Regions from separate parts of the Homo sapiens genome. Here region 1 is linked to region 2. A link means that fine-mapping ties the variant in region 2 to the expression of a gene that starts in the linked region. Tissue or cell type: whole blood. Region 2 holds a variant in brackets; the other region holds the start of a gene. All regions are shown on one strand. Distances are from middle to middle.

Evidence for each region. PIP is the estimated chance that this variant, and not a neighbour inherited with it, causes the effect.
Region 1: it holds the start of TBC1D1, and the variant in region 2 is fine-mapped to the expression of TBC1D1 in whole blood (TOPMed, PIP above 0.99).

The regions. Positions count from the first base shown.
Region 1 is chr4:37,889,847-37,892,459 of GRCh38, forward strand. It overlaps TBC1D1 (TBC1 domain family member 1), which reads left to right and starts at 1,238. Exons shown (of 22, transcript NM_001396959.1): 1 at 1,238-1,502. RefSeq lists silencers at 757-946, 1,267-1,766 and an enhancer at 2,546-2,613.
Region 2 is chr4:37,856,410-37,859,171 of GRCh38, forward strand. All of the region lies in intron 13 of PGM2 (phosphoglucomutase 2), which reads left to right. Among named protein-coding and RNA genes, the nearest start is that of PGM2, 31 kb to the left of the region's middle. The variant T/C (reference allele first, on the strand shown) is at 1,518.

The sequences.
Region 1 (2,613 bases), 33 kb after region 2:
ACTGCCTCCTCCGAGCACCCGGCTCTCCCCTCCCTGCGGACTCTTCTCTGGAGAGGATGTGATGCTTCTTACTTTTCTCAGATCCCTCTCCCCACCCTGCGAGTGACGTTGCGCCTCTGTGCCTGGTGGGATAGGGATCTGGGAGCTTCGCCTGTTTTTTGCACACTGCCATCCCCTAGTCTTAGGGAGCGAGCTCTGTCCCGCTTTTCACATCTCCGCGTCTTTCCTTGCACTCTACATCACCGCTGGGAATGTCCCCAGACCTGATCGGGGCATGCACACTGGGGTGTGCGTGTGCGTGTGGTGTGTGTTCCTGCGCGTGTGCCGGGCTCGCGGGGCAGGAAAAAGCGCCTAATCCAGGCTCTGCGTCACTCCCGCAATTGGTTAGAAATGGAGTTTCCTGGTGTTTAATCCCGGGAGGGCACTTCGCCTTCGTTGTTTCCCAGAGTCCCTGATTTTCCTGCCTCGCATGCCAGCGCCCCATAGGGCATCCGTGCCTCAGTTCACCTCTTGCCATCCTCCAAGGACGGGGAGAAGGGGTAAGGCGGGGGAGAGCAAGGTGGCTTGGTCGCCCCCGGCCCCCGCCCCCCATGTTGTGTGCAGTTTCCACCACGTCTGTTTCGGAGGGAGAAGAGGAGGGTGCAGATGAGGCGAGGCGCCTTCGGGAGCGCGGAGAGCGGGCAGGCAGTGCCACCTGCTGAGAGCCACTCAGGCCGAGCAAGCGGCGGGCAGTGCCACCTGCTATAAATAGGCCGCCAAGGACAGGGTGTGCGACTGTACATCCCGCCACGAGGGCCTGCATCACGCGCGGGGCCCCGCGCCCCCGGCTCCCCAGGGAAACGCTGTGCCCAGATCCTGCGCAGGGGTCTGGATGGGGCGGCGGCCCGAGTACTTCCCCCCTATTCCCCCCACAGACACTGGCTGAGGATGGCCCGCGGGCTTGGGGGCGGGGGGTGGCAAGGAGGGGAGGGAGGCCGCGGCGGACCCGCAGTGCAGCAGCTGTTGCTCGCGTGTGACTCGCCCGTCCGGGCCGTGCTGCCCAGGCACAGTCACACGGCGCAGTGGGGAGGAGGAGGACACCGAGTCCCCCTCCCAGCTCCCCGGGGACCGAGTGGGGAGATCCCGGCTCCTGTCTTCCCCTCGCCTCCAGCGCGCTCGCCCAGGCTGGGAGGAGGAAACCAGAGCCGCGCGCAGACACCTCCTCCTTCTCCTCCTCTTCTTCCTCCTCCTCCTCCTCCTCCTCTTCGGCTGCTGCTCCTGGTGCCGCCACCGTCCGCCGGTGCCTGTTGCTGCCGCCGCCGCGGGACCTGCTGTGTCCTCAGCTGGGTGGAGAAGAGGCGGGCGCCGAGCCGAGGGGAGCCCCCTCCCCGTCCCCCCGCGGCGGGAAGAGCGCAGCCAGCCGGGTGCGATGGACTCCCCGCCCGCCCAGGCCGTCCCCAGGATGCCCCCAAGCACCTGCGCGTCCCGGCCCGGCCCCGGGCTCTGAGCGCGCCGCGGCACAGGTAAGGCGCTTCCTGGGGCTTCGTCCTGGCCACCCTGCTGGCTCCTCTCGGGGCGTCGCGGCCGCCCCCTCCCGCAGCACGCCCCTGCCCCGCCTGGCCGCGGAGGGGAAGGCATCTGGCCGCCCACGGACGCGAGGCCAGGGTCTCTCGGGGGAGGAAGTTCATTGCCATCTCGTTGCCCCCCTTACCCCCCCACCCCCGCCGCCCTTGGACGAAAGCGAAACCTTAATGTTGCTAGCGACCCGAGAGCTCCGCCGGCTTCTCCCCCAACCCCCGCCAGCTCACTGGTCCGCGCATCTCTCCCCTCCCCCCTCCCGCCAATTATCCTAGCGTGTTTGCAAGGCGACCAGATTGGAAAGAGTGTGGTCAGAGTGACCCCAAGCCACGCTTTAAAAGTTCAGGGTACTTTGCAGTAGTAACTTTGGCAGCTCCACCAGTGCGCGCAACATTTCTTTCTATGGGTACATCCTGTACCAGTCATTTTGAAACCCTGCTTCATTGTTTCTAGCCGCTTCCTGATGGCTCTGTGATTATGAGACCCCCCTCAAACTTCACCAGGCATTAAGGTTTTGTTTTTGCTTTTTTTTCAGAGAGGTATCATTTCGTTTGAAATCCACCTAGATGTGGCTTTTCCTGTTTTGATTTTACTTAACATAGCTTATTCTCTGGAAGTTGCTTTAAAAAGAAATTGAAAGTGATGGTTGTTCCTTCCACCAAACAGTTTAATTTTCAGGGTGCCTCATATTAATGGATATGTTTTCCCTTCATAGATTTCTCATTGTTTCCCTTATGATGGGATGATTTCATTTATTAATAAAATCAGACTTTGAAAGAGCATTTAAAAATGACCTGGTTTAAATAGGTCACACCCAAGAAACTCAGCTATCTGTACAAGTTCAAACTTCTAAACTTTTTCAATGAGCTAGGGGTGGTGGCACCCACCTGTAGTCCCAGCTACTTGGGAGGCTGAGGCAGGAGGATCACTTGAGCCCAGGAGTTCGAGGCCATAGTGAGCTATGACTGTGCCACCTCACTGGAGCCTGGGTGACAAAGTGAGATCCCATCTCTTAAAAAAAAAGAGTTTAGGGGACATTTTCTGAAGTGAACACAA
Region 2 (2,762 bases):
ATAATCCATTCCACATGCATTCAAGAAATATCTTTGAGTACCCATTGTAGACAGGTCTGTGCTGGGTTCTGGAGGGGGCACAGAGAGCCTCATCAGAGAGAGTCCTTGCTGCCAAAGAACTGATGGGCTGGTAGCTTCAGGTTCAAGTTTCTGTGACCTCAAAAAAGTGTTTGAGTTGGTCACTCTGTAACAACTTAACATTTTGCACCTTAACAAGCTCAGTGCTGTCCTTAGTGTGTGTAAGTGTGATACTGCATGCCTATCCAACATGCCGTTAACCAGCATTTCCCTATTCAGAATACAGTTGAAAATCAGGAAAAGTTTTTGTGAAAGGTGAATTAAGTCAGTGCTGTCTGACAGAACTAAAATGCAATCCACAGATGCAATTTTGATTTTCTACTTGTCACCTTTTAAAAGCGTAAAAAGAAACAGGTGAAATTAATTTCAATAATGTATTTTACTTAACCTAGTATATCCAAAAATTATTACAACATATAATCAGTATAAATATTATTAATGAGATGTTTTACATTCTTTTTTTTTCCTCTGGAAAAAAGTCCTCAAAATTGATTCAGTAATTTTACACTTACGGCATATCTCAATTTGAATGCTCCATTTTTATCAGAAATACTTGATCTGTAGAGTTAATAAAATTTAGATTAGACAAAGTAGATTTTAATACCCAGATTATTCCAAACATACTTGTTTTCTAATAACTGAATCAAGTATCAGTTTTAAAACTTGAACTCAATTAACTGAACTTCATAAAATTAAAAATTTAGTTTCTCAGTGGCGCTTGCCACATTTCAAGTTCTTAGTAGCCACATGTGTCTAATGGCCGCTGTAGTAAACAGCACCCATCTAGGTAATTGTGACAACATAGACAAACCAAAGCTTTGCTCATAGAAGAGTTTTTCCAGCCTCGTGAATCAAACTTGTGCAAATAAAAGCAGATGAAAATTCCTGAGCATCTTAAATTGCCAAGCTAGTAGCAGATTAAATGTAGCAAATTAGAGGAATGGGGAAGTATAACAAACTTTTCTTAGGCAAGGAGAAGTGACTGCTGATAGCAAGAAAGGAAATATTAAAACAAAACAAAACTATAAAACGTGGACACAAGGACTTAGAAAGCTCACCACTCCATGAGTTTATCATGAGGGAAATAGCATTCTACACCCAAGTGAGCCCAGAATACAGCTCCACTCCAACACAGTCATGCTTATGGCTCTCAAATGTCAAGATGTTCAATAAAGAGATATTTAAGAAGTCATGGGACTATGTAATATATTTTCACTATGGATTCCCATTCAAAACCTTTTTGTGCTTAAAGTGCAAAAACTCAACTATTAAGTGAACATATAAAAGCTCATTTTCTAAGAATTCTGGATTACCAATATTTTATTGTAATATTATGCAAGAATCTTGTTTTCGTGTGCATTAGATAGTAAGCTCTTTGCTGCTATATTGCATATAGTTTTTTGTAAACATTTCTTTATAATTCTTGCTTATTTAGTGTT[T/C]TCTTATTTCTATGTTTCATTCTTTTAAAAAGAAATGGACAGTCCAACTAAACAGTCCAACTTAAGGATCTGTTTTTTCTGTATCTTGTCCTTTCCTTTTCATTATCTGATGAAAATATATCTTATACTTCGGAAAGCTTTCCTTTGTAATGATAACACTATTTAAATGTTTAAGGCTTTATGGTATTAACATTTTTCACATGGCTTATTGAGTGGACTTAAATTCAAATATTAGCTTATAAATTAGTGAAAAAAACCTTGAAAATTTGTCCTTTTATTATATGCATTGAAACATTGCTTCCATTTATTAAATGGGACATTAAGCGCTATGTCAGTAGATGGATATGTGGTCACGGCTTAAGCAAGGCACCAGCATACCTAACGTACAACAGCAATAAAGTTTTTTTTGTTTTGTTTTTTGTTTTTTTTTTAAGACATCTCTCTCTGTTGCCCAGGCTGGAGTGCAATGGTGGAATCTTAGCTCACTGCAACCTCTGCCTCCTGGGTTCAAGCGATTCTTGTGCCTCAGCCTCCTGAGTAGCTGAGATTACAGATATGCACCACCACACCCAGCTAATTTTTTGGTGTTTTTTTTTTTTTTTTAGTAGAGACAAGGTTTCATCATGTCGGTCAGGCTGGGCTCGAACTCCTGGCCTCAAGTGATCTGCCAGCCTCAGCCTCCCAAAGTGTTGGGATTACAGGCGTGAGCCACTGCACCAGGCTAGCAATAATGTCTTCACTAAGATTTCCTTCTTTCCTGAAAAGCTTAAATATTATTAATATGCTTTATGTCATAAATTTCAATTATTCATAGAATTTCATGGCCTTCTAATCAACTAAAATGGAAAATCCTTTTCAAGTATGTGCTGCTTTAAAAATATATTTTTGTCAGGGGAGATGTCCTTAGTTTTGTCCAACTTTTTTATTTTGAACAGTTTCAAACCTACAGAAATGTTGGAATAAGAATGCAGTGAATACCCACACACCCTTCACTTAGACCAAACTTTGTATGTAAAGAGCCAGATAGTAAATATTTTAGGATTTGCAGACATGTGATTTCTGTCACCACTACTCAGCTCTGCTAATGTAGTAAGAAAGCAGCCATATGTATAAAGGAATGGGCAGGGCTGTGTTCCAGTAAAACTACATGAACCACAGTTTGTTGACCCCAATCCAGACTGAGCAATTGCTAACATTTTGCAATATTTGCTCTCTCACCATATATGTTATGTATTTGAGATTTTT